7 linked regions of the Homo sapiens genome follow. The protein of the gene in region 4 purifies or fractionates together with the protein of the main gene of each other region. This does not show direct contact. Each region holds a gene or a part of one and is shown on either strand. Other genes may lie near its edges. The genes, in order: KAT14, ASXL1, KANSL2, KDM6A, SIX4, YEATS2 and TFE3.

The links.
Region 1: the proteins of KDM6A (region 4) and KAT14 purify together in Homo sapiens (affinity purification with mass spectrometry, with the first as the bait; one large-scale study listed by BioGRID). This does not show direct contact.
Region 2: the proteins of KDM6A (region 4) and ASXL1 purify together in Homo sapiens (affinity purification with mass spectrometry, with the first as the bait; one large-scale study listed by BioGRID). This does not show direct contact.
Region 3: the proteins of KDM6A (region 4) and KANSL2 purify together in Homo sapiens (affinity purification with mass spectrometry, with the first as the bait; one large-scale study listed by BioGRID). This does not show direct contact.
Region 5: the proteins of KDM6A (region 4) and SIX4 purify together in Homo sapiens (co-immunoprecipitation; one study listed by IntAct). This does not show direct contact.
Region 6: the proteins of KDM6A (region 4) and YEATS2 purify together in Homo sapiens (affinity purification with mass spectrometry, with the first as the bait; one large-scale study listed by BioGRID). This does not show direct contact.
Region 7: the proteins of KDM6A (region 4) and TFE3 purify together in Homo sapiens (affinity purification with western blotting; one study listed by BioGRID). This does not show direct contact.

The regions. Positions count from the first base shown.
Region 1 is NC_000020.11:18,182,863-18,185,698, forward strand, and holds part of KAT14 (cysteine-rich protein 2-binding protein), read left to right. Parts: intron 1-260; coding exon 261-436; intron 437-1,739; coding exon 1,740-1,930; intron 1,931-2,836. UniProt on the Homo sapiens protein: Component of the ATAC complex, a complex with histone acetyltransferase activity on histones H3 and H4. May function as a scaffold for the ATAC complex to promote ATAC complex stability. Has also weak histone acetyltransferase activity toward histone H4.
Region 2 is NC_000020.11:32,368,331-32,371,830, forward strand, and holds part of ASXL1 (polycomb group protein ASXL1), read left to right. Parts: intron 1-684; coding exon 685-793; intron 794-3,500.
Region 3 is NC_000012.12:48,665,239-48,668,738, reverse strand, and holds part of KANSL2 (KAT8 regulatory NSL complex subunit 2), read left to right. Parts: intron 1-949; coding exon 950-1,046; intron 1,047-1,145; exon of another isoform or gene 1,146-1,282; intron 1,283-3,500. UniProt on the Homo sapiens protein: Non-catalytic component of the NSL histone acetyltransferase complex, a multiprotein complex that mediates histone H4 acetylation at 'Lys-5'- and 'Lys-8' (H4K5ac and H4K8ac) at transcription start sites and promotes transcription initiation.
Region 4 is NC_000023.11:45,107,188-45,110,233, reverse strand, and holds part of KDM6A (lysine-specific demethylase 6A), read right to left. Parts: intron 2,825-3,046; coding exon 2,698-2,824; intron 156-2,697; coding exon 1-155. UniProt on the Homo sapiens protein: Histone demethylase that specifically demethylates 'Lys-27' of histone H3, thereby playing a central role in histone code. Demethylates trimethylated and dimethylated but not monomethylated H3 'Lys-27'.
Region 5 is NC_000014.9:60,717,852-60,721,351, reverse strand, and holds part of SIX4 (homeobox protein SIX4), read left to right. Parts: intron 1-207; coding exon of another isoform or gene 208-229; exon of another isoform or gene 230-244; intron 245-906; coding exon 907-1,592; intron 1,593-3,500. UniProt on the Homo sapiens protein: Transcriptional regulator which can act as both a transcriptional repressor and activator by binding a DNA sequence on these target genes and is involved in processes like cell differentiation, cell migration and cell survival.
Region 6 is NC_000003.12:183,774,297-183,777,796, forward strand, and holds part of YEATS2 (YEATS domain-containing protein 2), read left to right. Parts: intron 1-1,618; coding exon 1,619-1,827; intron 1,828-3,245; coding exon 3,246-3,404; intron 3,405-3,500. UniProt on the Homo sapiens protein: Chromatin reader component of the ATAC complex, a complex with histone acetyltransferase activity on histones H3 and H4. YEATS2 specifically recognizes and binds histone H3 crotonylated at 'Lys-27' (H3K27cr).
Region 7 is NC_000023.11:49,028,226-49,030,791, reverse strand, and holds the end of TFE3 (transcription factor E3), read left to right. Parts: intron 1-190; coding exon 191-634; 3' UTR 635-2,066; downstream 2,067-2,566. UniProt on the Homo sapiens protein: Transcription factor that acts as a master regulator of lysosomal biogenesis and immune response.

The sequences.
Region 1 (2,836 bases), on a different chromosome or scaffold from region 4:
GTATCTGTTTCCTCACTGTTCATGAAGGCACCTAGCACAGTCCCTGGTGGGTACAGAGGGCTTTGGCCTGATGAATGTTCAGAGTGAATTTTAGATTTCATACATAAAAGTATAGCTGTAATCAAGCCAGCTTCGTGTAAAACAGTGCAGGTTACTTTAAAGTTTCAAGCAGATCAAAGAGTTTATATGAGTCAAAAAGCTAGGAATAATACCAGGTATTTTTCTTGACTTGAATTTGTTTATCTTCTGTGGTACCGGAGGCGTGATTATGAAACAAAGCCACCCAAACTGCAGCTCCTGTCACAGATTCGTTCCCACCTGCACAGGAGCGACCCTCACTGGACGCCGGAGCCCGACGCACCTCTCGATTACTGTTATGTGCGGCCAAATCACATCCCAACGATCAACTCCATGTGTCAGGAGTTTTTTTGGCCTGGTATGTTCCCCCTCCCAAACCAGGCAGGTCATTTTTCTGTACAGTCCATTCTAGCAATTTTTAAAATTAGTTTATGTGATATCCTTAAGATTTTTATTTATGATTTCGTTTAGTTTGTCTCTGCTAACATGGAAATATTAAAATACAAATACCTCTTGCTTTCCCAAAATCTAGAAGAAGCCAGCAATAAACAGTGTTTTTGTTTGTTTCTCTTCCCTGTTTGTCTCTGTTTCCAGAGTAAAAGATTCATCCTGTTTTGCTTCTGCATATGTTTAGATACCAGGTAATGTCTATCAAAGATACACAGACTGGTAGCTTGGGCGTGTTTGGACACTTTTGTTTTTGGCTTAATAATTCTTTATGTTTTGTTTATTTAGCTGTTCCTTAGAGAGTATTAGTACAGCCAGAAGGTGTTTTTTAAAAGCCAAATGCCCTGATCACAGACTGAGAATAAGGGTAAACCCAATATAATTTGTCATTTTATCAGCCTTAACAAAATTGCCTCTGAAGACCAAAGTCATTAATTAAAGGAACACATTTGCATTGCTAAATATAAACTATTCTTTGTGGATCTGCTTTCCCACGCTGCCTTGAAACCTAAAGGAAATAATACATGTCTTTCAGATGTTAGATACGATTTCATCAAGATAGAGCTGTGTCGTCTTTATTGTCACATAATCACATAACTGTGAATGTGGTGGCAGAGCTGCACTCATTCTTTTGGGAGTCATACTGAGCCAAAAGTAACATTCTGGGAGCATCTCCTGCTTCCTGCCCTTATGTTAGGTGCCTTCCATACATTATGCACAGAAGCATATTTTACTTATTTATTGTGAAAGGTAGCATTTGTACAAAAGAACTTATAAATTATATGTGTGGGGGGTAAAGGATGTGATAGAACACGCTCGGAGGATCTTTACTTAACCCTGTCAGGTCTAGGTATGCTCTTCATCTTACATATTGCAGAAACGGAGTCTCTGAGACATTTTGAAATGTGCCAAGCCACACATGGTAGAGGAGGCTGAGTTCAAAGCCAGCTGTGTCCAATTCTGAACCCGTGCACTGCTACCTACCCTATTCTGCCACTCTTCTTTTAGGAAATACTATGTAATTTCAATATTTTCTAAAATTCACTCTTATTTTTATGATCTGGTTGTGTGGTCTCTATGTTACCTCCAGTTTTGGTGTTTTTTTTTTTTTTTTTTAGCATGCAGGTGTAGCTATATGTACATGCTGAACAGCTTGGTGTTCCTTAATTCTCAAAGGCATGTGGTTTGAGTCTCCGATGGTTTCTTTTCTTTAGGCATTGACCTGTCTGAGTGTCTGCAGTACCCAGACTTCAGTGTTGTTGTTCTTTATAAAAAAGTCATCATTGCCTTTGGCTTCATGGTTCCTGATGTGAAATACAATGAAGCTTACATTTCATTTCTGTTCGTCCACCCTGAATGGAGAAGAGCAGGGATTGCAACTTTCATGATCTATCATCTGATTCAGGTAAGTTGTCTATGTTTATGATTTATCACCTGTGTCTGGGCTCCCCTGAACAACCTGGAGGAGGAATGAAGCTGAGCTAGCCCTTCCCAGCATGGCCCAATGGAATGGTTTCCTTGTAAACCAAGTGAAGAAAGCCAGTCATCAGCATTCATGAGGTTATCAAAGCACACAGTCAAAAATCTTCGACCCTCTAAAATAAGATTATTATTCAGACTCAGGTTTCATAGAAACCAGTTTGTGAACATGTGTATAAATAAAATGAGAAAATACCAAAAGCAAGAGCTTTAGGGTGGACTATTCATATTAGTAGTAGCTACTGCTCTTAGGATCATCACCTTCGCAACTCAGAGAAGTGAGGGTAGGACTATTATTTTTATTTTTTTAAATATTTGTAAACATTTTAGCACAACTGTATCAATAAGAATATGTATATATTTTTTGAGACAGGGTCTCATTCTGTCACCCAGACTGGAGTTGCACAATCATAGCTCACTGCAGCCTCAACCTCCTGGGCTCGAGTGATTTTCCCGCCTCAGCCTTCTGGGTAGCCAGGACCACAGGTGCACACTGCCATGCCCGGCTGATTTTTTGTAGGGACAGGGTCTCACTGTGTTGCCTGGTCTGTGCTTGAACTCCTTGGTTCAAGCAATCCTTCCACCTCAGCCTCCCGAGTGCTGGGATTATGGGCATGAGCCACTGTGCCTAGCTACATATTTTATTTTTGCTGATAGTTTGTAATTTTACTATCACTGTATAAGGCTGATATGAACCTTCTAAGATTTGATTCTAGTATTGAATTATAATTCATCCTTTAATATATTTGTATCACCTTTGAAGAAAATACACCATATATCACCATCAAAAAACATGCAAGGATTTTTTTCCCCTAGAATTTTTTTTAGTCAA
Region 2 (3,500 bases), on a different chromosome or scaffold from region 4:
GACCATGAAACAACTTAGTATGCCATTGTTTCAGTTTATTTTTTAAGCATTACTGGGAACTAAATCCACTTGACTTACTTTTTGCATTTAGGTTTAAATAATTGTTCCTGGGTAGATACAGAATAAAACTCAATCTCCCCACTTCCAGCAGAGAAAAAACAAATGAAATACTGTTCTTTTTGTGTACTTACTAGAAAATGTTTAACTGGAAAAAAAGTTCTGCTTGTTTTATTGGCACAGCACCATTGATTCTGTGATTCTTTGTCATAGTATTCTGTGGCAGTTTCTGAGTATGATATGTAGATTGAAATATAGAGGCTAGGAAACTTTTAATAGTAAAATTTTACTAAAAATTTATTAACTTATTAAAATATAACTTGAAAAAATTGTGAGGTTTTTCTAAATTTCTTGGAAATTTGATTTATATTGTCAAAAAGCACTGAAGAAGTGTTAGTTATGGATTTCGGGTATCACATAATGTTTATTCCAGAGTTTTCTGAGTGTGATTTATGTGAATTTCATTTGGTTATTCTTTTACTATTTTCACAGTGAAATTGTCATGAGATTTTTTCTTCTGTATTTCTTGCTTAGCTTCTTCTCATTTAAGAATGAGTTGGAGGGATTAGGTCTTTAAGTAGGCAGATGGATTGTATAACCCTCATCCATTCTTTTGTGGTTTTACAGTGGGACTTCCCCTCTCGCATGCCTCAATGCTATGCTACATTCCAATTCAAGAGGAGGAGAGGGGTTGTTTTATAAACTGCCTGGCCGAATCAGCCTTTTCACGCTCAAGGTAAGTGATATGAACTCTCTTTTGGTGCAGTGATTCTTGGACTTTTAATGTGCATAAAAATCACCTGGTAGGTCTGGAATAGGGGCCATGAATTTGCATTTCTCATATGCAGTCAGGTGACACTGATGTTTTTCTTTTTTTTAGACATAGTCTCGCTGTGTCACCCAGGCTGGAGTGCAATGGGGCGAGATCTCGGCTCACTGCAATCTCTGCCTCCCATGTTCAAGTGATTCTCCCACCTCAACCTCCCAAGTAGCTGGGACTACAGGCACATGCCACCATGCTCGGCTAATTTTTTTATTTTTTTTAATAGAGACGGGGTTTCACCATGTTGGCCAGGCTGGTCTCGAAATCCTGACCTCAGGTGATCCACCTACCTCGGCCTCCCAAAGTGCTGGGATTACAGGCATGAGCCACCGCACCTGGCCAGATGCTGTTGGTTCTAAATGGCACTTTGAGGTGTTCTAATATGAATCAGATATTAGAAATTATTTAGTCATAGCAGCTCTTGTTTGTGTGTTCATCTTTTCTTGTCTATATCTTTGTAGATTGTACAAAACTGAAGCATAACTATGGGGATAATTGCAGATGTGCCTTTTTTTTTTTTTTTTTTTTTTTATTCTGAGATGGAGTCTCACTCTGTTGCCCAGGCTGGAGTGCAGTGGTGCGATCTCAGCTCATTGCACCCTCCACCTCCCAGGTTCAAGCAATTCTTCTGCCTCAGCCTCCTGAGTAGCTAAGAGTGCACTACCATGCCCAGGTAATTTTTGTATTTTTAGTAGAGACGGGGTTTCACCATGTTGGCCAGGCTCGTCTTGAACTCCTGACCTTGTGATCCGTCCGCCTTAGCCTCCCAAAGTGCTGGGATTACAGGCGTGAGCCACTGCACCTGGCCACAGATGTGCCTTAATTAGGATTTTGTTGTAGTAATGATGTGAAGGATAAATTACTGGTCAGCTAATGTAAGACCTACTCTATGGAAAATAACTGAAATGTGAACATATTTGTGGAAATTAAGTGACAGTAATTATAAAGTAAGAGTACTTAAATCAGGTAGAGTTCATAATAAAGCTTAAATAGGGCCGAAATGAACAGGCTAATTATTTTTCCACCATTTGTGATATATATGGTAATCATTTAGACCGGGGGTCTGCAAAGTTTTTCTGTAAAGGACCAGAAAATCAATGTTTTTTTGTTTTGTGGATCATACTGTCTTTGTCTTAACCACTCAGGTCTGCCATTGTAGTAGGAAAGCAGCCATACCCAAATGAATGGGCATGGCTGTGTTCCAAAAAAAAAAAAAATTTATTTACAAATGTTTGTTTTACTTACGAAAACAGGCTGCAGGCCAGATTTGATTTGGGGCTGTACTTTGTCGACCCCTGATTTAGACATAAGATGACTTGTCGACATTGGAGAAACTGAAAATTTGATGCTGACCCTTTCGTTCTTCCATAGTGGGTTATAAATTTTAGCAGTCAGTACAAACTTTTTCCTTTAAGTTTTGTTTTCTTGATGGACTGTATTCAAAATAAATACCTGAACAAATACCAACTATATAACATGAAGCCATAAAACTTGGTCTTTATATATAAATAAAGTTTATCTTGGGGTCAGATGTCTGTGCTGTTTTCTATATTTTTTTATATCCAATAGTTTGGTCTTTTTCCTTTCAGTTTTGTATGCTTTTCTTGTAATCGAGCCTTGGAAGAGACAGAGCCACTGAGCCCAAAACCTAGCTTTGTGGTCGGCTGTGGTGGCTCATGCCTGTAATCCCAGCACTTTGGGAGGCTAAGGCGGGAGGATTGCTTAAACTCAGGAGTATGAGACCTTGTCTCTATTAAAAAAAAAAAAAAAAAAAAAAAGCCTTGCGTGGTGGTGTGTGTGCTTATAGTCTTAGCTACTCAGGAGGCTGAAGCAGGAGGGTAGCTTGGAGATGGAGGCTGCAGTGAGCTGTGATCACACCACTGCTCTCCAGCCTGGGCCACATAGCAAGACCCTGTCTCAAAACAAAAACTTAGCTTTGTAACCTGGGAGGGATTTAACCCTTCTTTTTGGTGGAATATGCATCCCTGGCATTGAGTCAGTCCTTAATAAATGATAGCCTTTATGATGATCTGAGGTTTATCATTCTTAATTGCCTGTTAATGGCATTTTTCTATTAATATTATCTATTTTTTGAGATAGGGTCTTGTTCTGTCACCTGGGCTGGAGTGCAGTATCATAGTCACAGCTCACTGCAGCCTTGACCTACTAGGCTCAAGTGATCCTCCCACCTCAGCCTTCTGAGTAGCTAGGACTTCAGGCGCATACCACTATGCCTGGCTAATTTTTTGTATTTTTTGTGGAGAAGGAGTTTTGCCATGTTGCCCAGGCTGGTCTCGAGCTCCTGGGGTCAAGCGATCCACTGGCTTTGGCCTCCCAAACTGCCAGGATTACAGACGTGGGCCACTGCACCTGGCCTATTATTTTTTAATTTAATATTAATTTATATTTTTAGAAACAGGGTCTCACACTGTTGTCCACAGCTGGAGTGCAGTAGTATAATCATAGCTCACCGTAGCCTTGAACTCCTGGGCTCAAGCAGTAGTCCCACCTCAGCCTCCCGAGTAGCGTACACCATCACCCCAGCTAATTTTTAAATTTTTTCCTAGAGATGAAGTCTTGCTATGTTGGTTAAACTGGTCTCAAACTCCTGGCCTCAAGT
Region 3 (3,500 bases), on a different chromosome or scaffold from region 4:
TTAGAGTAATTGTCAAAACACTATGTCCAGTCTTTTTTTGAGACAGAGTTTCAATCTTGTTGCCCAGGCTGGAGTGCAATGGCGCCGTCTTGGCTCACCGCAGCATCCACCTCCTGGGTTCAAGTGATTCTCCTCCCTCAGCCTCCTGAGTAGCTAGGATTACAGGCATGTGCCACCATGTCTGGCTGATTTTGTATTTTTAGTAGAGACGGGGTTTCTCCATGTTGGTCAGGCTGGTCTTGAACTCCCTATGTCCAGTCTTGGATCTGAAATCTGACTTTTTGCACATGGGTTATAGTGAAAGCACTTAGCTTGAAGTCAGGAGACATGGATTCTAGTGTGAGTCCCCACTGACCAGCTCTGTGTCTGCACAGTTAGCTTAAATTTTCTGGGCCTCAGTATTCTCATCTGCATATTGAGTAGTTGGGAAAAGTTTCTAAGTCCTTGGTTCAGATATTCTTCAGTTCAGAAATAAGCACAGGTTAATCCTAAATTGCTTGGGAATCTTGTTTTAAAAGGTGGGAAGGTAGAATAGGAGCAATTGAATGTCAGGAAGTAAGGTTAATAGGAAGAAGAATTAAGTGATCATTCTTAAATTTGTTTTTCAGACCCTTGGTCTCTGTTTCAGTAAGAGTAATTTTGTTTCATTTGTTGAGATTCCACTTAAGGCTGCAATTTCAGAGTTCTGTTGGTAAAAGACAAAATTTGTGTTAAATAGGCTATATCACACTTTTAGAATATGGAGAGGTGTATTTGGGATTGAGGTTGACTCATTCTTTATGCACTAGGTTTTAAAGTTTTTTGTCTTTTGCATAATATTGGTGAATCTATTTTTGTTAAATGTTGAATTTCTAGCCTTTAGGATGTGCTTTTCTTATATAACTATTTTCATCGTAATTGTTTGTGTGTTCTTTTGTGGGTCTATTTTATCTGTCTTTTTCCATTTCAGGCCCATACCACTCGTTCCAGTCAGAGGTGCTTGGCCTTTGTGGATGATGTTCGTTGTTCCAATCAGTCTCTTCCAATGACCAGACACTGCCTTACCCGTATCTTTTTACTCTGCCTGTTAAGGCTGTGGTTTGCTAGTTTGAAGACTAGTGGGAATCTCTGTGCTAGTTTGCTTAATTGAAGGATTTTGTTTTCCTTTGGCCCTGAATCAAGGCCAGCAGTTTGCTGAAGCTGTTGGTTTCAAGCAGGAGCCTAAAGAATTGTCTTTCTATGGTCTGTTGGCCATTTCATAACTTTGGAAATGTAATGGTCAATTCATTAGAAAGAAACATGAGTCGTTTTTCATAGATGTGGGCTAATATTTATTTATAGCCTTAATACTTGGGTCCCAAAATATACATAAAATATTTGTAATTGTCTCAAGGTTTCTGATTTAACTTGCTTATTAGGATCCTAATGCTGTTAAATCTAATTATAAACTTAAAAAATTACTGTGGGTTTTCCACCCCAGTTGAAAGGATGATTTTGCACTGTGAACTTCTAGTATTATCCTTTTGTGTGGTTAGGGCCCTCACTTCTGTATTTTATTTTATTTTTTATTTTTTGGAGATGGAGTTTTGCTCTAGTCTCCCAGGCTGGAGTGCAATGGCGTGATCTCGGCTCACTGCAACCTCCACCTCACTGCACCCTCCGCCTCCCGAGTTCAAGCGATTCTCCGAGTAGCTGGGATTATAGGCACGTACCACAATACCTGGCTAATGTTTGTATTATTAGTAGAGATGGGGTTTCACCATGTTGGCCAGGCTGGTCTCGAGCTCCTGACCTCAGGTGATCCACCCGCCTTGGCTTCCCAGAATGCTGGGATTACAGGAGTAAGCCACTGTGCCCGGCTTTTATTTTTTTATTTGTGTTTTTTGAGACAGGGTCTCACACTGTTATCCAGGCTGGAGTGCAGTGGCTCAGTCATAGCTCACTGCAGCCTTAACTCCTGGGTCAAGCAATTCTCCTACCTCAGCCTTCTGAATAGCTGGGACTATGTATGTGTGCCACCATGCCTGGCTAATTATTTATTTTATTTTATTATTAATTATATTTTTTGAGGCAGAGTCTCGCTGTGTCGCCCAGGCTGGAGTGCAGTGGTGTGATCTCGGCTCACTGCAACTTCCACCTCCTGGGTTCAAGCAATTCTTGTGTGTCATCCTCCTGAGTAGCTGGGATTACAGGCACGTGCCACCACGCCTGGCTAATTTTTGTATTTTTAGTAGAGATGGGGTTTCACCATGTTGGCCAGGTTGGTCTCAAATTCCTGACCTCAAGTGATCTGCCTGCCTCGGCCTCCCAAAGTGTTGGGATTACAGGCATGAGCCACTGCACCTGGCCTATTTTTTTTTTTTTTATTTTTTGTAGAGTCAATTTTCAATATGTTGCCCAGGCTGGTCTCAAACTGCTGGGCTTAAGCAGTCTGCCAGTCCTTTCCTCCCCAAATGCTGGGCTTACAGTCATCAGCCACTGTACCTGGCCTTTATAAACTTAAAAAAGAAACTTGGCTCTTTAAAAAGTTTTCTTTTTTTAATTTTTTTGAGACAGAGTCTTACTCTGTTGCCCAAGTTGGAGTGCAGTGGCATGATGATGGCTTACTGCCGTGATCTGCTGGGCTTAAACGATCTTCCCACCTCAGCCACCAGAGTAGCTGGGACTACAGGCATGTGCTACCACGTCCAGCTAATTTTATTTAATTTTTGTAGAGAGGTTGTGTCACTATGTTTCCCAGGCTGGTCTCGAACTTCTGAGCTCATGTGATCCTCCCGCCTCAGCCTCCCAAAGTGCTAGGATTACAGTTGTGAGCCACCATGCCCAGTCTCTTGACTCTTTTGTGATAACACTTAGTCACTGTGCCTGGCCTCTAACTTGCATACTTTAAACATCATTCAAATTAGAAGTTTGCTATTTCCAAAAATGAGATGCTTTTTTTCTTCTTTTCAATTAATTTGCCTTTGAACCATCATAATGTCTCTTGATTCTGTTAAAGGACTACATTTGGCATTGGGCCTTCAAACTTTTTTGAGTTGTTGATTGAATTGTGAAAGTGCTTATTTATTATAGGCATTGAGAAAAATTTCGCAGTAAAAGCACTTGTTAATTAAATAGGATTGCTGGATTTCATTTGCTTGGCAAGAAATGCCAAATATTTGGAAATTAAAACTTATTTTCTTTATTTGTTTTTTTTGAGACAGAATCTGACTCTGTCACCCAGGCTGGAGTGCAGTACCGTGATCTCAGCTTGCTGCATCCTCCACTCCCCTGGGTACAAGCGATTCTCCTGCCTCAGCCTCCCAAGTAGCTGGGATTGCAGGTGCCTGCCACCGTGCCCAGCTAATTTTTGTATTTTTAGTAGAGATGGGGTTTCACCGTGTTAGCCAGGATGGTCTCGATCTCCTGACCTTGTGATCTGCCTGCCTTGGCCTCCCAAAGTGCTGGGATTACAGGCATGAGCCACAGCGCCCGGCCACTTATTTTCTTTAATAGGGAGAGGAGAAGGAGAACCTCTTCTT
Region 4 (3,046 bases):
TAGACTTGCATCAGGTCCTCCATTTTGTACTGTTCTAGCACCACAAAGTTTTCCAAGTTTCCGCTTGTTTTTCGTGCACAATCTTGGCAATGTACTATGTAGGTCTTTCGTGAATTACTCTCATTAGTGACAAAAAGCAGATCAAAAACCTCCACCTGTTTTATACAAGAGAAAAACGTATTCAATAGAGATAGTGGTATTTACTGTACTGCTTTAGTATAATCATGGAATTCTACTTGAATGAAATTGTGGACAGTGATCTCTGGTTAAGAGTAGGTGGTAAGAAAAACATGGCTGTGTTTGAGAATCTTTAACAGACCAGGTTTATTTTGCACCAAATCCAAAGACATGGGTAGTAATGCATATTTAGGGGAATAATCAAAGGGAATGACATACTCATGACAACCACTGGCAAAGCCCAGTTCAAAAGTTTGATAAAGGTCAACCTATTTTTAAATCTAAAACATTAGTATACAATCAGACATAAGTGATCATTTTTATGTATTCATGAGTACAGCATGATTTTAGAAATAATACCTCTATCTTATACAGAAAGATTGATGAGTTGCTAGGGTTCAGGTAGGATAAGGAACAACACACCTAACTGGAATCTATCTGATCTCCTAATGACTCACTTTGGTCAGGCCATATGACATTTAAAAAAAAAATCAATGGATTCTATCATTTCAAATAAAGGTTGATGCTAGAATTACAGAATTTCAAGGTTTGAAATGGACCATCAACATCCTGTCTTTGGCTTATCCTTAAATTTCTTCAATGACAGAAAACTCTTATGATCCCATGTCTTCTTTTAACAGTTAACTACAATCCTAGAGTTCACCATGTTATCCATTACTGTCAACAAGCAGCAATACAAACCTAGTGACCTGAGCTAGAAAATTGGTGAGCATTCTTCAACTTGTCCTTCCACTTCTGCCATTTAATGAGGTGTCTCGCTGATTTTACCCTCTAAATATTTTTGAATTCTTTCCCTTCTTTAATATTCCCATTGCCAGGTTCTAGTCTAGGCCTTAAAATAACTTTTTTTTTTTTACAGGTACTTTATTTATTTATTTATTTATTTATTTATTTATTATTATTATTATTTTTTTAAATTATACTTTAAGTTTTAGGGTACATGTGCACATTGTGCAGGTTAGTTACATATGTATACATGTGCCATGGTGGTGCGCTGCACCCACTAACTCATCATCTAGCATTAGGTATATCTCCCAGTGCTATCCCTCCCCCCTCCCCCCATCCCACAACAGTCCCCAGAGTGTGATGTTCCCCTTCCTGTGTCCATGTGATCTCACTGTTCAATTCCCACCTATGAGTGAGAATGTGCGGTGTTTGGTTTTTTGTTCTTGCGATAGTTTACTGAGAATGATGGTTTCCAATTTCATCCATGTCCCTACAAAGGACATGAACTCATCATTTTTTATGGCTGCATAGTATTCCATGGTGTATATGTGCCACATTTTCTTAATCCAGTCTATCATTGTTGGACATTTGGGTTGGTTCCAAGTCTTTGCTATTGTGAATAATGCTGCAATAAACATACGTGTGCATGTGTCTTTATAGCAGCATGATTTATAGTCATTTGGGTATATACCCAGTAATGGGATGGCTGGGTCAAATGGTATTTCTAGTTCTAGATCCCTGAGGAATCGCCACACTGACTTCCACAATGGTTGAACTAGTTTACAGTCCCATAACTCTTAAGACCACTGCAATAGCTTATATATCGCTGTCCTTTCCAACCACTTTTCTCCCTGAAACACATATCTTACTTACCCTTAGTTGCCTGCTCAAAACCTTTTAATGGCTTCAATAACCTTGGAATATCAAATTCCTTAAAACCATTCAAGATGTGCTATAAATTAAATGCCACCTAGACTTATGAGCGGAATTTGCACAGTCTGTGTTCCAGCCAAATCGGAACACATTCAACCTTTTCTAAAACCATTTCATTTCCCTGTTCTCTTCTTGTGCCTATAGCCCATGACAGTCTACCTCCGATTCTCATCACTTTTTTAGTCTACTTGATATCATACTCTTTTTTCCAAGGATGGACTCAAATGCTAATACGTTTGTGAGTTCTTATGCCAATACTAGAAGAAAAAATTAGGTCATTTTCCCCCTCAGTGTTATCATTAACAGGAAGTCCAACTTCACATTCATCATAGTCTCATGTACATTACAATTAGTTGTTTATAATCTGTCTGCTCCAAGTAGAATTTAAGCTCCTTCATAGGAGGCACCACATCTTTGTTCCTGCACCTCTTGCAAGCCTTGGCCACACAAGATTGACAAATGTATTGTTAATTGCACCAGAGAGGACTGATAATCGATCTGCCTAGAGTTACACCAAACATCCAGTTTATTGGCATCTGTGTACATCTAGATTGTTCTTAGTTTAAAATCTCAGACTAAATTTGCTGATTATTGTCTGTTGAAGATCTACCACAAAAATGACTCTGCAGTAGATACTTTTAAGGTTAATTCACAGTGAAATATCATTATTATCACACTGAATTTTAATATAATGGCTAAGCAACAAAATTGAATCCAATGTTAATTACTATAAACTGGATTACATAAAAGTATAAAAAAGTTTTTTAAAAATAAAGAGAAACCAACAGTGGAGAGGGAAGAGGCTTTATAAAACAACTGTGGATAAAAACAATTACTTACTTCACAAATGCTACAGTAATGAGCTGGTTCTTCTTTTGTCCGCCCATGCCATATAATCTCTTTTCCTGCAGCAATGAGAGCTTCCCTCAATGTCTGACATTGCTTCAGAGTTCTTAGAAGACAATACCTATTGTGGGGGAGAAATTATTTGTGACCAGCAACTGAATATTGAATATTTTTAGCATAAAAGATATACCAACTAGAAATAATGCCAAGAGACTTGATTCTAATGTCTATGACTTCATAATTTTTCTTTCATCAATTTATCAAATATTCTCAGATTTTAAAATGACAATGCTCAGCAGGCCTGATGAAGACAATATTAAAACATTTAAAGTTGAGAAAAGTA
Region 5 (3,500 bases), on a different chromosome or scaffold from region 4:
TCTGCTCTCGTTTGCTCTCCCTCCCAGCCTCAGACCAAATGGGAAACCCCATCACTACCCACCCCCCAACCCCGATTTGGTATTTCTCCCAAGTCAGAGAGCTGAGGAACAGGGTCCTGCCTGGAACAGAGGGACCAAGGACGTTGGGGAAGAGGTCTAATAGTTAGAAGGCCTCTGAGTGACACCCTTTCCCTCCCACCTCACCAGGGCACTGGATGGTGTTTGTTAAATAGGCCCCTTTGGCTTCCTTTGGATTCAAAGGCGACTGCACATAACTGTTCTTGGGTTGAAAGTGCCTTTTCCTACAACAAGGACAGCCACTTTGTTGAATGAGAGAGTTGTCAGTCTGGTGGAGTAGAAGTTTGGGAGCAGGTGAGAAAACGATCTCTTGTTAACTAACTGACCAAAAAAGAAAAGCTGAGCACTTCCTACCTCCTGCTCCTTTGGCAGCTTCATTTACCTCCAAGATAACACTAATCTGAATTGGTTTGAGGGGAGGGGAAGGAGTTCCTAAACAGGAAAGACCGACCACCTCATTTAAGGTGTTTTTTTCTATGGTGTCAGTAGCAGCATATGTAACAGTAAGGAATAGCACTTCTACACTGTAAAATCAAATATGTTCTTCTCCTGTAATGCTGAATTTACATCTTGCAGATGTCTGGACTTTCCCTGAATTTATTGTTATTTTAAATGATTGGGATCTGAGAGTTTATCTTCCCAGATTCTCTGGCTGGTCGGAATCTGCTGAAAGGCCTCTTAGTTTAAATAGGACTAGCAGATATCCTGCTGTGCTTTCCTTAAATACTGCCTTTAATGGATTTAGAAGCTGGTTTTCCAAACAAGTGGCACTGTGTAGAATGTCATCCCCCTGACCTTCTGAACATTTTGATTTCCCCCTCCATACAGTGAGTCAGATGGCAACCCCAGCACTGAAGATGAATCCAGCAAGGGACATGAGGATTTATCTCCTCACCCACTCTCCAGTTCATCTGATGGCATCACCAACCTCAGCCTTTCCAGTCATATGGAGCCAGTATATATGCAACAAATTGGAAATGCTAAGATATCATTAAGCTCTTCTGGAGTTCTGTTGAATGGAAGCTTGGTACCTGCAAGTACTTCACCTGTCTTCCTTAATGGAAATTCTTTTATTCAGGGACCCAGTGGAGTTATCCTTAATGGATTAAATGTGGGAAATACACAGGCAGTGGCATTGAACCCACCAAAAATGTCATCAAACATTGTGAGCAATGGTATATCCATGACTGACATACTGGGGTCTACTTCCCAGGACGTGAAGGAATTCAAAGTCCTCCAGAGTTCTGCTAACTCAGCAACCACCACGTCCTACAGCCCCAGTGTCCCTGTCTCATTCCCAGGCCTGATACCCAGCACTGAGGTGAAAAGAGAAGGCATTCAAACAGTGGCTTCCCAAGATGGAGGGTCTGTAGTGACTTTTACTACACCAGTGCAAATTAACCAGTATGGCATTGTCCAGATCCCCAATTCCGGAGCAAACAGCCAGTTCCTTAATGGGAGCATTGGATTCTCTCCACTGCAGCTGCCCCCTGTGTCAGTGGCAGCTTCACAAGGTAACAATCTCATTTGGTACCTTAATGCACCAGCAAATGTGTTCATCAGCTGCTGTAAGTGACGCATTTGGTGATAGCTATAGATTGATGTTTCTGTTCAGGTACCTTATTAGCTGCCGAAGCTGTAGAGTAGCCTTGATGTGATTCTCCTCTTTCACAATACCCATGTCATATCCAGGTTGCTTTATTCCCTTGCATCATGAGGATGGGCTTTTATTTTACTAACAACTGAATGGAAAAATACAGTTCATAGCAAGTCCTGCCAGTTCTACAATTACAGAAATATGATAAGTCAATCAGTGCTTACAAAATAACTCACTGCTTGGCATTTTAATATTAAAAATTAATAAAATTGCTAAGAACACAAAATTAGTCTAGCAGTTGGTAAGAATGCATACACTTTACCTAAGCATTATTTATTTGACCAAAAAATGTTTTAGAAGAACAAGCTAAAAAGACCGGATCAATTATGTTTGAATCCTGTTTCCTCCTATAATGAAGACTAACAGACCTAAAAGAAAATCAGAGGAATATGCCATTGGATTTCTATCGCTCAGCATATATACTAACCCCCTAAATGTGTGGGTTTATTTGTGAAGATAATAGTAAGCCTTATTTTATATGTTTGTGGCTTTACTAACAGCAATCTTCCAGAGAAAGCACTTAAATGAAATTCAGGAAAACTGAGGCTGATATATTAGTTCTTCACTGACTTTAAGCAAGCCTGGATCCTCTATGTCATTTTCTCTTTAAAGAAATAGAAATGGTTAGAATTTGGCAGTGGAGTTTGCATAATCCCTTGAATTCAGGAAGGGTAGATCTTAATGCACGTTTGCCTTCTTGTAGACAAATCTGAAAATCCAGATTTTTACAAAACCAAAGTAGTAATTGTTGGCTTTAAAGGTCTGCTTCCTATAAGATGGTTTTACCACCCCCCCAAAAAAATCAATTTATGCACAACTCTCTTGTTACCACAACTATGGTCTATGTCAGCTTATTGAAGGAATTAATGGAAAAATTGTTCTAAATTTCATTCTGTACATTTGCATTTCTTTAGGCAAAATGGTACTAAAACAAGACATTCCTGCAGCATACTATTCAGTTCATCATTGTTCCAAGTTATGGAAAGAGTTAAGTTACTATCTAACATAGGGCAAAAATATGAAAACCACAGGGAAAGCCAAAGTGCTTAGTTTGATAATAATTTAATGTGGATCTAACCCCTTTTCTCTCATTTGGAAAATTTCCAAACAGGTCACATTTTAAAGGCAACAAATTTGAGCAGAAAGAATGAGTTATGTATGTTGGGGGAGGAGAAAAGTAGAAATACTTTTAATTGTGTAATCTAGAGGAGCACTGCCATAGAAAATTATTATGAACTAATAGCTGAGTTTTTAAATGGGACATTTAATAGGAATAAGAATAGCATTTTCAGTTAAAATAAGTAAGATCAAATCTTAGACTGTCTGGGTGAGTTGAACAGACAGTCTAAGTTTAACCAGATAGTTAAGTTTAATCCAGTAAGCAACATTTCTATGGTAGTTAGGTATTGCAGTTCTCAATAAAACATTTTGGGGATTCAGTTTTTTCTCACAAACAGATACTGAGCCATTCTTTAAAATGTCTTGACAAGATAGACTTATCTTTCTATAGTTGGGATTTATGTGGAAAAGTAGAATATCTACATCTTTTACTCACTTTACAGTCTGAGCAACTAAGATTATTATTATTATTATTATTATTATTTTTAGGCGGAGACTCATTTTGTCACCCAGGCTGGAGTACAGTGGCGCGATCTCGGCTCACTGCAGCCTCTGCCTCCCGTGTTCAAGTGATTATCCTGCCTCAGCCTCCCTAGTAGCTGGGACTACAGGCGTGCATCACCATGACCGGCTAATCTTCGTGTGT
Region 6 (3,500 bases), on a different chromosome or scaffold from region 4:
ATCAGATTCTCACAGGAGCGCGAACCCTGTTGAGAACTGTGCATGCGAGGGATCTAGGTTGTGTGCTCCTTATGAGAATCTAATGCCTGATGATCTGAGGTGGAACAATTTCTTCCCCAAACCACCCCCCGCCTCCTGTCCCAATTCATGGAAAAGTTGTCTTCCATGAAACTGGTCCCTGGTGCCACAAAGCTTGGGGACAGCTGGTTTGGATGTATTCCTTACTTCTGCTAGGTTTGGAGATGGAAAGAGAAATACAGACTCTACCTAGGTTTGTAAGTCTTAAAGCCCCATGGAAATGAGGCAGTTTATCTGCAGTTAAAGAAACTTTTGCTTTGACATATAGAGAAAAACCGTTTGGGCAGTGTTGAAAAGGATAGGATAAAAGGAAATTATTTCCCTCTGAATCAGAAGTAGAAGGGTACAGCATTCAGGGTCATTGGAAGTTAACCGCCCTTGCCAAAATGCAGTGTGTCAGCTCATCATCCTTGCGTTCATTGACCATGATGTGTCAGTTCCACTCTCACTTGGTGTTTTTTCCTCATACCTAAGCAGTGGTATGTCCAAAAGTTAAATGTGTAAGAAAAGGACAATGTAAATATTTCAGAAGTCATCCAGGGAGCTACTTAGATTCTTGTGATATCCTTGGTGCAAAAATAAACCATTGGGAAGGAAGCTATTCCAATAATCACTGGAATGAAGGTGGAGAAGGAAATTGGAAGTTAGTATTTGTTGAGTGAATATTCATAGTCCAGGTAGTTCAAATGCATTATCTCACCAAAAGAGAAGTAAAAAGACTTCAAGGCTTTGAAGTGGGATTTGAAAGGCAAAGAAGAATGGGGTCCTGGAGTCATTGTAAATGAAGGAAAGTCTTCATTTTTCCTGAGACAGGGAGACAACATCGAGCACTGTAAAGTTACACTAAATTCCAGCAATTCCCTGACATTGAATCAGATGCCCAAAAGTTGGGAAGCACCTAGCTGAGCACATTTAAGTGTTGATTAAAATACTTGGCTAGAGGCTGGGTGCAGTGGCTCACACCTGCAATCCCAGCACTTTGGAGGGCCAAGGCGGGCGGATCATGAGGTCAGGAGATCGAGACCATCCTGTCCAACATGGTGAAACCCCCTCTCTACTAAAAATACAAAATTAGCTGGGCATGGTGGCACACGCCTGTAGTCCCAGCTCCTTGGGAGGCTGAGGCAGGAGAATCGCTTGAACCCGGGAGGCAGAGGTTGCAGTGAGCCAAGATCTTGCCATTGCACTCCAGCCTGGCGACAGAGTGAGACTCCGTCTCAAAAAAATACTTGGCTAGAAAATGTCAGTAGCAAGCCTTCTCTTGATCTCCCACGACCACGTCAAAGTATCTTCATTGTACTCAGAGCCGAAATACAGTCAGTTGTCATGCAGTTGAAAGGAAATAGATTTTGATCTAAAATCTAGGAAGTTCTCCTCACTCTTGTCACAGGGTAGGTAGATTACAGAAAAGACGGAGGAAAATGGGAAAGAAGAAGGAATGGCACTAAAAGGGAAACATCTCTCTGGGCTCATTTGTTTTTTATGCTAAAGCTTTGCTTGATACTTTTTATGATGTTGCTGTCATTCATTGTATTTTTAGATCTCCAGTCTGGCTCAGCTGCCAGTGGTGGGAGTGGTGCCGGAGGAGGAGGAGGAGGAGGAGGAGGAGGCGGCAGTGGCAGCGGTGGAGGCGGCAGCACAGGAGGAGGAGGAGGAACAGCAGGAGGAGGAACTCAAAGTACTGCTGGCCCTGGAGGGATATCTCAGCACCTGACTTACACATCTTACATCCTCAAGCAAACTCCCCAGGTCTGGTTCTCTGTAACTGATATTTTAAATCATTTAGCTATTGGATAACTATGCTTAATTATAATTGATTTACCTTTACGGCTCTGGGATCAGGGTTCAATACTAACACCTTAACCGTGTTATCTATATCTATATCTTGGCCGGGTGTGGTAACTCATGCCTGTAATCCTAGCACTTTGGGAGGCCAAGGTGGGTGGATCGCTTGAGCCCAGGAGTTCGAGACCAACCTGGGCAACATGGCAAAACCCTGTCTCTACTAAAAATACCAAAATTAGCTGGGCGTGGTGGTGCACGTCTACAGTCCCAGCTACTCCGAAGGTTGAGGTGGGAGGATTGCTTGAACCTGGGAGGTTGAGGCTGCAGTGAGCTGAGGTCGCACCACTGCACTCCACCCTGGCTGGGTGACAGAGTGAGACCCTTTCTCAAAAAAAAACTATGTGTTTTTATCTTTTTTGCTTGCTTTGAGAGAAGAGGAAGTAGAGATTGAGAAAGATTTTAGTAACTTATCCAGGATCTTCCTGCCAAGCCAATGGTAGAATTTGGGTTTAAGCCAGGCACGGTGGCTCACGCCTGTAATCCCAGCATTCTGGGAGGCCGAGGCAGGCAGATCACCTGAGGTCAGGAGTTCAAGACCAGCCTGGTCCATGGTGAAACCCTGTCTCTATTAAAAATACAAAAATCAGTCGGGTGTGGTGGTGCATGCCTGTAATCCCAGCTACTTGGAAGGCTGAGGCAGGAGAATCACTTGAACCCGGGAGGCAGAGGTTGCAGTGAGCCAAGATCACTCCATGGTACTCCAGCCTGGGGGAAAAGGGTGAGACTCTGTCTCAAAAAAAAAAAAAAAGGAAAAGAATTTGGGTTTAAACCCAGATCTTCCTGCCTTAAAGATTTCTACTATGCTAATTGCCTCCAAAATCCATGAGGTAATAAACAGTATTAATGTACAGTTGAAAAGTTGCTCATAGAAGGGAGTGATCAAAGAGATGGTATCAAGTTGTAATATTTAGAGTTAAGTTAGATTTGATTAGGAACAGGTTTCCTCCTCGTCTCCTCTTGTCACTGAAGTCTTGGCTCTTTTTGAAGGAAAGTAATAGAATTTTGGTTCCAGATGTTCTTATTGAGAAAGATGATATCAGTCTGAATGATTAAATCCAGTTTTGAGGACTAAGTTGCAAAACATGAGTTTTCAACAGGCTGCTCTGTAACTACAGTGCAAAGTTTGAGAAGTGGGGATAACTAATGGAAGTAACACTTAGAGCACAACTATTCTTTTGAATTATTTTGCCTACATTGCAGAATTAAAGGGGAGAGCGTTGTAGCTTGTAACATGGGACGTTACATGTGATTTAAGGGATCAGAACAGCCCATCTGAATTTAACAAATTACCGATTAGTTCTTTATATTTTTTTCTAACTTAGGGCACATTTTTAGTTGGCCAGCCATCACCCCAGACTTCTGGAAAACAACTCACCACTGGGTCAGTGGTCCAAGGAACACTGGGAGTCAGCACATCTTCTGCACAAGGACAACAAACGCTAAAAGTCATCTCTGGACAGAAAACCACATTGTTTACACAGGTAAATACGCCCATGCACACACCCCAAATATGGGGTGATTATGGCATTTATTTACATATTTACATGTAGTTTCTCTCTTTTCACAAAGAAATTAAG
Region 7 (2,566 bases), 3.9 Mb from region 4:
ATACCCACTTTACAGTTTGCGACTCTGAAGCTTCAGAGATGTTAAGCACCTTGCCTAAAGTTTTGGAACTAGTGAGTAGCAGAAGCTGAATTCCAACCCAGGGAACCTACCCTTTTCAACCTTTATACTCCTCTGCCTCTGAGGGACTCTGAACCCTACTTATCCTGCACCCAACCCCTATTTTTTACAGGAACTAGAACTGCAGGCCCAGATCCATGGCCTGCCAGTACCTCCCACTCCAGGGCTGCTTTCCTTGGCCACGACTTCGGCTTCTGACAGCCTCAAGCCAGAGCAGCTGGACATTGAGGAGGAGGGCAGGCCAGGCGCAGCAACGTTCCATGTAGGGGGGGGACCTGCCCAGAATGCTCCCCATCAGCAGCCCCCTGCACCGCCCTCAGATGCCCTTCTGGACCTGCACTTTCCCAGCGACCACCTGGGGGACCTGGGAGACCCCTTCCACCTGGGGCTGGAGGACATTCTGATGGAGGAGGAGGAGGGGGTGGTGGGAGGACTGTCGGGGGGTGCCCTGTCCCCACTGCGGGCTGCCTCCGATCCCCTGCTCTCTTCAGTGTCCCCTGCTGTCTCCAAGGCCAGCAGCCGCCGCAGCAGCTTCAGCATGGAAGAGGAGTCCTGATCAGGCCTCACCCCTCCCCTGGGACTTTCCCACCCAGGAAAGGAGGACCAGTCAGGATGAGGCCCCGCCTTTTCCCCCACCCTCCCATGAGACTGCCCTGCCCAGGTATCCTGGGGGAAGAGGAGATGTGATCAGGCCCCACCCCTGTAATCAGGCAAGGAGGAGGAGTCAGATGAGGCCCTGCACCTTCCCCAAAGGAACCGCCCAGTGCAGGTATTTCAGAAGGAGAAGGCTGGAGAAGGACATGAGATCAGGGCCTGCCCCCTGGGGATCACAGCCTCACCCCTGCCCCTGTGGGACTCATCCTTGCCCAGGTGAGGGAAGGAGACAGGATGAGGTCTCGACCCTGTCCCCTAGGGACTGTCCTAGCCAGGTCTCCTGGGAAAGGGAGATGTCAGGATGTTGCTCCATCCTTTGTCTTGGAACCACCAGTCTAGTCCGTCCTGGCACAGAAGAGGAGTCAAGTAATGGAGGTCCCAGCCCTGGGGGTTTAAGCTCTGCCCCTTCCCCATGAACCCTGCCCTGCTCTGCCCAGGCAAGGAACAGAAGTGAGGATGAGACCCAGCCCCTTCCCCTGGGAACTCTCCTGGCCTTCTAGGAATGGAGGAGCCAGGCCCCACCCCTTCCCTATAGGAACAGCCCAGCACAGGTATTTCAGGTGTGAAAGAATCAGTAGGACCAGGCCACCGCTAGTGCTTGTGGAGATCACAGCCCCACCCTTGTCCCTCAGCAACATCCCATCTAAGCATTCCACACTGCAGGGAGGAGTGGTACTTAAGCTCCCCTGCCTTAACCTGGGACCAACCTGACCTAACCTAGGAGGGCTCTGAGCCAACCTTGCTCTTGGGGAAGGGGACAGATTATGAAATTTCATGGATGAATTTTCCAGACCTATATCTGGAGTGAGAGGCCCCCACCCTTGGGCAGAGTCCTGCCTTCTTCCTTGAGGGGCAGTTTGGGAAGGTGATGGGTATTAGTGGGGGACTGAGTTCAGGTTACCAGAACCAGTACCTCAGTATTCTTTTTCAACATGTAGGGCAAGAGGATGAAGGAAGGGGCTATCCTGGGACCTCCCCAGCCCAGGAAAAACTGGAAGCCTTCCCCCAGCAAGGCAGAAGCTTGGAGGAGGGTTGTAAAAGCATATTGTACCCCCTCATTTGTTTATCTGATTTTTTTATTGCTCCGCATACTGAGAATCTAGGCCACCCCAACCTCTGTTCCCCACCCAGTTCTTCATTTGGAGGAATCACCCCATTTCAGAGTTATCAAGAGACACTCCCCCCTCCATTCCCACCCCTCATACCTACACCCAAGGTTGTCAGCTTTGGATTGCTGGGGCCAGGCCCCATGGAGGGTATACTGAGGGGTCTATAGGTTTGTGATTAAAATAATAAAAGCTAGGCGTGTTTGATGCGCTTTTAACTTTGGCAAAGAGTCTCCTGTCCTTGTTTTACACTGTGCAGTGAACATAGCCCATGCAGGCCAAGAGGGATAAAAGTCCTTGGGAGAAACAGATTCCAGAAGGATGGATAAAAGAATTTAGAAAGGAAGAGGGCATGGAGGAAGACAATATGCAAACAAAAGACAGTATTTTTAAAGACCAATCACCAGGCACAATTTTAACTGCTGCAAGTGTTTCATCTAATTTATTTCTCTAAAGGGATGTTAGTCAGAACATGCTGCTTCTTACTTCCATTTGGTCTTTGAAGAAGCTGAGGAATAGAATTGAACTGTTCTGAAGATATGCAAGCCTGTAAATGGGTGAGGCGGTAAAACAGTAAAGTCAGGTGAGTGAGGGCTCGATTGAAAAATGCCACTGAGGGCAGAGGGGGAAAGAAGCTTTTCTTGCAAATCCACTTTTGAAACTGATAAAGAAGTCTATGAGGATATTTCCTGGCAGACAACAGAGGTATTTAAGATGGTGGAAAGGAC